Homo sapiens: one gene and its partner. The protein of the gene in region 2 purifies or fractionates together with the protein of the main gene of each other region. This does not show direct contact. Each region holds a gene or a part of one and is shown on either strand. Other genes may lie near its edges.

What was found. Proteins that work in one complex are often made in the same cells at the same time.
Region 1: the proteins of DHRS4 (region 2) and NDUFS2 purify together in Homo sapiens (affinity purification with mass spectrometry; 2 studies listed by BioGRID and IntAct, with this or other methods). This does not show direct contact.

The regions. Positions count from the first base shown.
Region 1 is NC_000001.11:161,200,419-161,204,165, reverse strand, and holds the start of NDUFS2 (NADH dehydrogenase [ubiquinone] iron-sulfur protein 2, mitochondrial isoform 1 precursor), read right to left. Parts: upstream 1,800-3,747; 5' UTR 1,781-1,799; coding exon 1,686-1,780; intron 730-1,685; coding exon 623-729; intron 1-622. UniProt on the Homo sapiens protein: Core subunit of the mitochondrial membrane respiratory chain NADH dehydrogenase (Complex I) which catalyzes electron transfer from NADH through the respiratory chain, using ubiquinone as an electron acceptor. Essential for the catalytic activity of complex I.
Region 2 is NC_000014.9:23,956,767-23,960,513, reverse strand, and holds part of DHRS4 (dehydrogenase/reductase SDR family member 4), read right to left. Parts: intron 613-3,747; coding exon 511-612; intron 1-510. UniProt on the Homo sapiens protein: NADPH-dependent oxidoreductase which catalyzes the reduction of a variety of compounds bearing carbonyl groups including ketosteroids, alpha-dicarbonyl compounds, aldehydes, aromatic ketones and quinones.

The DNA of each region.
Region 1 (3,747 bases), on a different chromosome or scaffold from region 2:
AGAGGGAGATAATGTAGTGAACCTGAAATATATTGAACATGGGAAAAGCTGGCATTAATATTTAAATTGGTAGGGACTTTTGGGTATTTACTGGGACCCATTCTTTATTTTCTTCTGCAACATCCTTCCTTTCCTTCTCTACTTCACAAATACCTGTTGTTATCACTATTATGTCTGTTGAATTTCGTGGTGAAAGAAGCAAACAGGATAGGGGCTAAAATTTGCCTAAGACAGAGAGCTCAAGAGCACTTAGAAATCAGCTGGAGGCCAGGCATGGTGGCTCAAGCCTGTATCTCAGCACTTTCGGAGGCTGAGTTGGGAGGATTACCTGAGGCCAGGAGTTTGAAACCAGCCTGGTCAACATAGCAAGACTCTGTCTCTACAAAAGGAAAATTTTCAAAATTAGCCAGTTGTGGTGGCACAGGCCTGTTGTTGCGGCTTTCTGGGGAGGCTGAGACAGAAGGTTGCCTTGAGCCCAGAAGTTCAAGGCTACAGTGAGCCACTTTCGCACCACTGCACTCCAGCCAGGGAGACAGAGGGAAACCCTGTCTCAAAAAAAGAAAAGGAAATCAGCTGGGGGCAGGGATGGGTGTGGGTTGGGACAGCAACTCTGGTCACTCACCATTCCAAGGTGGAGGCTTCCAGTGGGCTGTTTCTTTGCTTGGGTACATAACAGCTCCCCCAAACTGCTGTGCCCATTCCACATCTGGCTGCCACTGCCGAACACCTCTGGGGAGTCAAAGACAGATCCTAGACAAAGGGCCTGAACAGTGTTTGGTTCCTGTGTTCCCATTCACTCTCAAGGGGACCCAGGAAGGATGACCTGTTTTTTTGTTTTGTTTTGTTTTTTGTTTTTTTTGAGACTGGGTTTCACTCTTGTTGCCCATACTGGAGGGCAATGGTGTGATTTCGACTCACTGAAACCTCCGCCTCCCGGGTTCAAGTGATTCTCCTGCTTCAGCCTCCCAAGTAGCTGAGATTACAGGCATGCGCCACCAAACCCGGCTAATTTTGTATTTTTTTAAAGACGGGGGTTTCTCCATTTTGGTCAGGATGGTCTCGAACTCCCGACCTCAGATGATCTGCCCGCCTAGGCCTCCCAAAGTGCTGGGATTACAGGTGTGAGCCACCGCGCCCAGCCAATGTCCTGGATTTTTTAATGCCAAGTCACTGATCTGAAGTTAATGTAGCTTCGGCAAAACAAGCTGGAACTCTAGAGGTTCCATTCCTACTAACAAATTATTCCTGGAATAACTCCACCCATCACCCCTGGGCATGCAAGGTTGGGATCCTAGCTTCTTCATATTTTCATCATATTGATATTATCAACCAGGTGAATATGAACGTGAGAAAAGTGTTTGTTCAAGGTCAACGACAGAGAGACAGCGAGCATTCTGGCTCTTTGGCTGAGCTCTACTCAGGTATGACAGGAGAGGTGCATTCAAATTACTGAAGCTAAAAAGCAGAGTCTCCCACTCCGCTGATTTCACCTCGGCACGAACGAACTCTAGACCCTCTCCCCTCCCTCGCCAGAGTGGGCGCCACTGCATCCCGTAGCCCAAGAAATCAGGGATGGACAATGGGGTCACAGGCTTGGGTTATTATTTTCTGGGGGAGTAAAGCGTCCCCAACCTGAGAAACCCTAGCCTTGGAGAAAGTGTGTCGAGAGCTGCCCTCGATCTCACCTGCTGGGCTGAATCGGCAATCGGACTCCAGCCCCAGGCCGCAGCACCTGGGCCGCGACGCCCCGGAAGCCGCACAAAGCCCTCAGCGCCGCCATCTTACTCCGGCTGCAGACTGCGGGAAGGAGAACCGGGCGGAAGTAACTCCAGCGCGCCTCCTTCTTGGCTTCTCACCTATTCGCACAGTGAAGCCGCCCTCTTGGAAGCTGGCAGGGTCGTTTACCGTCGAACTGACAACATCCGGGTCCTGTGACTCGGCTTCACTTGCGTTTAGATAACAGTGACCGCGGTCATCTTTACTGAGGGCGTTTCCTCCCACAGCTCCTGGCTGGCTTTTCTAGGAGCGAGCAAGGGAAAATTGCCGTTCCTGCGTGGGGCAGATACTTCGTGCTCTCTCGCCGAGCCCGCCTGCGTATCTTGGAAACGCGCGGCGCTTCCTTCCCTACTCCCTTCCGCCTTGGCCGCCCTCATGCTTTAGTCCTGCTCTCGGATTGTATCTGAGCCCTGCCCTTATAGGGTAGCCCCAGGCTTTGCCAATTACTTTCCCATCACTGAATCCAAAAGACAGGAGTTGGGAAAGCCAGCTAATTTCCAGATGTCATAAATTGAGATTGGAGAAAGGAGCCTAAGTGGGGCTGGGCGGGTCTGAGAGCTCCCGCCAAACCAAAACAAAAAAGAATAGGATGCCAAGGCCGCCGGCATTGGTGGTGCGGAGGGGAGTGTCGGGGTGTGTAGGAGCCACCTCATCCCAGATGGGGGAGTGGAGGTCCTCTGTGGGTGACCCTGACATCCTCCAGGCTTCCCGAACCTACAGAATCACAGACCCAGGAAGCGCCCTTAGAGATGCCTCACACCCCACTTCCGTCTTGCGTCAGCCTCTTTTCCCTAACGTCTTTCTGACCCTGCTATAGCCCTCCTGGGTAATGGCCAACAGCACGGAAATGTAGTAGCACCAGGAGTCTGATCACAATTCTGTATGGACAAAGATTCTTCCAGCCTTAGAGGCTAGTTCCTGTTTTCTCCCTCTGCCTCTAAGCCCAACTCCAGCTGGGCCACCCACCCGTAGAGTTTGTACAACTCTCCAACTCTGAGCCTGGAAAGAGGCCTTCCCCAGATATCCCCTAGACAGGATCCCAGGGACACAGCCCACCAGCAGCGCAGCAGGGTGAGGCAGACAGACCAGGAAGCAGAGATGGTGGAATTCTTCACTGCAGAGAAAGAGGGGAAAGCCAGACTTCTGGCCTGGGAATTGACCTAATGGGAACTGTACCAAAGGGTGGGGCCAGATCCTTAGCTGTGGGAACTGACCAGGACCTGGGCTAGACAAGGCAGCTGCCACAGAGCCAGGGCAGAGGTTTGGTCCCTCTGTTGTCCTCATTCCTTGCTCTTTCCCTGGGCCTTCTTTCTATTGTTGAAACACAGCAAATGTGGCCATGGTGGTGGGGGATGGGAAGGACTGCATTTATTTGCCTTGATCCAGCCTGGGAGAAGTCAGGATAGACTTTGGGCTGCTTGGCCCTGGAGGCAGCTTGAGCTGGGACTGGGGTGGGGGGCTCCTGAGGGGCTGCCTAGGACACTGCAGCTTTTGTGCCTTCTCCCTGCTGCCAACACCCCCACACACACTGCTGCAGCCACTCTAAAGCCCTTTGTCTTTCATTGCTTAGTCACCCCCTTTGTCCTCATCTCAAATAGGGGAGTGGAAAGGGGCAGTAGAGTTCTCTGGTGATAGCTCCTCTTGCCCCTGCCCCTTCTGGTCTCCCACCCTTTGTCCGACTCCTCTAGTCCCAGCCCCGTTGGCTTAGAACCAGGGTCAGGCAAGTGGTGGGTCAAGAGGTGGGTCTGGCAGTCACAAGGGGGTGGGTGATCCAGGAAGTGATAGGCACCAGGGCAGGTATTACCGACCTGAGCAGGAAGGGAGGGGGAAAGGAAGTATTCTGACGGATATGATATGCGGGGGACAGGAGGTGACAAAGCAGAGTGAATAGGGGAATAGAGGCAAGAGGAGGTGGTCCACTTCTGGGAAAGGAAAGAGACTGCTGACTGCACTCTCCTTCCTGGGGATTTC
Region 2 (3,747 bases):
AATATAGGTTTTTATTTTATTTTTTTAAAGGATGTATGTTATAAAGTGGCAACTGGTCATTTCACCAGAATTAGTATTTTAAATAAGGAGCAGCATTTAATATTTCCCAACTCGTAAAAAATAATTACTTTTTGTCAGCTGAAAAGGGGACAGGTGGGTGTGTAAATTAAGTGTTGTAGTTGTTGGCATATTAGCTGCCTACGTCTCTGTTGGAAATCAACAAGGCAGAAGAGCATGCCAGGGAAAAAGCCTGGGGAGAGGAGCAGACTGTGGCTAGTGAAGAGCAGATAGAAGCAGAGAGAACTAGGAGTAGCAGAAACGAATGAGAAGGGCAGGGATAGAGCCACCCCCACCCGCCCTTTGCAAGGTGTGCTCCAGGTGTGTGGCACGTGGCAAAGAGTCCTCACATTTACACTGCCCTTGAGAAATGCATTCTAAAAGCAGATGGAGTTTGTGCTGAATGTGTTCCAAGGCGCCCCCCCCGGCCCCCCTGCTTTAATCCCCTCTCACCTTGTCCCACACCTCCTCAGTGACATCCATTATGCTTCCAAAGAAAGGGTTGACAGCAGCATTGGAGACTAGGATATCGATACCTCCATGAAGCTTCACAGCCTAGAGAGAGGGGTAAGTTCTGGACCAGGGCTGCAGTAAGTAAGGGAGGTGCATTTACCCATGTTGATAAAAACTTCCTTCTGGGCAAGGAGCTGTGGCTCATGCCTGTAATCATGGCACTTTGGGAGGCCAAGGTGGGAGGCTCACTTGAGCTGAGGAGTTTGAGAGAAGCCTGGGCCATGCAGCGAGACCTTATCTTTATATTAAAAACAACAACAACAATGACAACAAAATCTTCCTACTTAGGAACTATCGTCAAAATAACTTCTATTTCTTAAAACATCTTTTTTGAAAACTACCCTAAGATCTGCCGCTAACCATTTAAGGTTGGCTTCTTTCTTTTTTAGACGGAGTCTTGCTCTGTCATCCAGACTGGAGCACAGTGGCATGTTCTCAGCTCACTGCAGCCTTGACCTACTGGGTTCAAGCCATCCTCTTGGCTCAGCCCCCCAAGTAGTTGGGACTACAAGTGCGTGCCACCACACCCGGGCAATTTTTGTATTTTTTATAGAGACAGGGTCTTGCCATGTTGCCCAGGCTGGTCTGGAACTCCTGGGCTCAAGCCATCCACCTGCCTCAGTATCCTAAAGTGTTACAGGCGCGACCCACCAGGAAGTTGGCCCTATTTCTTTTGCAGTGTTTTCTTCCCACCTCCTATTCTTCCAAGGCTGTCTCTGACGCTCTTTTCTTTACACTTCCCCTTTGGGAAGCTCCTTCATTCTCATGATTTCAAGTCTCACCCCAAAATCTATTTCCAGACCCCTCCTCTTCCTTTCACACTGAGTTCCACCCACATTTCTCCAAGTGCTTACTGTCCAGTTCTCCTTGAATAAGTTACCATTATCTCAAAGTCAATCTGTCCACACTTACCTGAATGGAAAAACTGGCTTAAATAGAGCTGTAGAAAGTTACCCTGGAGGGGCCTTTGAGATCATCTATTCCAGTGTCCTTAAGGTGGAGATGATGAAATAGGTTCAGAGAATTTTCTCAAGATCTTATAGTTCAGTAGTGGCACACTGGGGCTAGGTAAGAACAGGAGGCCTGCTTATTCTGTGTTTGGGAGGGGTGAAGTGATGTTTTCAGGGCACAAAGCTAGTTAGTGGTGGAAGAACTGAGGTCAGTCTCCCACTTTGTAGCACAGAGCTAATTCATAAGAGCCCTCTGAAAGTGAGTTGGGGTCATCAGGAAACTGGTTGCCCAGGAGAGCCGTGATGGGAGAAGATACCAGCCTGAATTTAAAGCAATTCCATATTTGGTTATGATGTCATTTTCCCTGTCTCTGTCTCTCTCTTTTGACCTGGAGGCATGAAAGATTCAAGGCAGAAACTGAAATTTAAATTGAGAAGGCGAAGAAAGGCAACATCTCACCTCCTTAATAAGTTATAAGTAGATAGTGAGGCCTGTGCTAGAGTAATGAATGGCCAAGCAGAATCTGCCAACAAGGGTTTTCAGTACAAAGCCACCCTGAAACCAGACTTTCCGTTTGCCCGGAACTGGCAATTTTGATGCCTTGGGCAAGTTGCAGTACACGGGCCCTCGGTCAACTTTGTGCTCCGGATTTGGCACACAGAGGGGTGTTACTAACAATGTACACCATCTGCTAGCTTCCCGTTTTAACTAATTATTCTTGTTAACTAGGTGCTAAGCTCAGTTGTTTCTAGACAGTTGAAGGAATGCTGGGCTGTCAATGTGTAAATCTAACAAAATTTACAGTCACATAATCTTTTAAAACCAGTATTAATACTTTCTTGCACCCTTTAAATTTTGGTATCCTGGCACAAAGCCAAGTCACCTGCCTTGGCTCTGTGTAAGTCTCACCAATGGACTTGTTACTAGGGAGGTGCAGAGTAAGTTAATAAGTGATGTGCGCCGTGCTCAGTACACATGTGTTTGGGCTGGGAGGAGACAATGGATTGCTCTAGAATCACCTGGAGACATTTTCTACTCTGCTGTATACCCCATACTCCTCTCCTTCCAGGTCTGTCAGCACAGAGATGGGAGGAGGCTGGGTTTTGATTGAACAGAGACAGCAAACCATAAAAGATGAATGAGGCTGGGTGTGGTGGCTCACACCTATAATCCTAGCACTTTGGTAGGCCCAGTGGGGAGGACCACTTGAGGCCAGGAGTTCAAAACAGCCTGGGAAATACAGCCCCAACTCTACAAAAAATTTAAAAAATGAACTGGTGTGGTGGTGCATGCCTATAGTTTTAGCCACTTGGGAGGCTGAGGTGGGAGGATTGCTTGAGTTCAGGACTTCGAGGTTACAGTGAGCTATGATCATGTCACTGCACTGCAGCCTGGGCAACAGAAGGAGGCCCTGTCTCTGGAAAAAAAAAAAAAAGGAAAGTCTTCTAAGTCTTATTCTAAATTGTGTGATCACTACACCAAAGCGGTTAGGAGCTGTTTGTTCTGTGTTCTGATAGTTATACATTTTTAAGAAAAAATATAATCAAGGAGATAGGCAGCTACTCTGGTTTCCACTTACAACACCAGTGAGAAGCTTCGTGGTGTCCAGATGAGGAGGCCACTGGGTAGTATCCATTCTCAGGAAAGTGGCTTTTCTCATTGCAGGGTAACATGTGGCAACTGGCAGAAGACATTTCAAATTGCTGACAAGTATTCTATCATTCTCCTCTCTGACAATGGTCATACAAACTACTTGAGAGTCATTTTTGACTTCTCTATTTCCCACTTTTTGACATGGGGTTGGAAAATCTTGGTTCGTTTCCACTGAATGTCTCTTGGGCACATCTATTCCAGTCCCACCGCCACTGCTCTAAACCTGGAGGACAGCAACAGCTTCCTCACTGATGCCCTGGATTCGGTGTCTCCTCTGTATATCCTTCCTACCAGAGCCAGATTAGCTTTCCTAATAACCATCTTTCTCTTGCTCAAAACCTCACATGGCTTCTTATTTGCTACAAGGGTGTGTAAACATATCCTTTTAAGAGGCCATATCCTTTTAAGGTCCTTAACGTATCCTTTTAAGAAGCTATGGCCGGGCACAGTGGCTCACGCCTGTAATCCCAGCACATTGGGAGGCCGAGGGGGTGGATCACCTGAGGTCAGGAGTTCAAGACCAGCCTGGCCAACATGGTGAAACCCTGTCTCTACCAAAAATACAAAAATTAG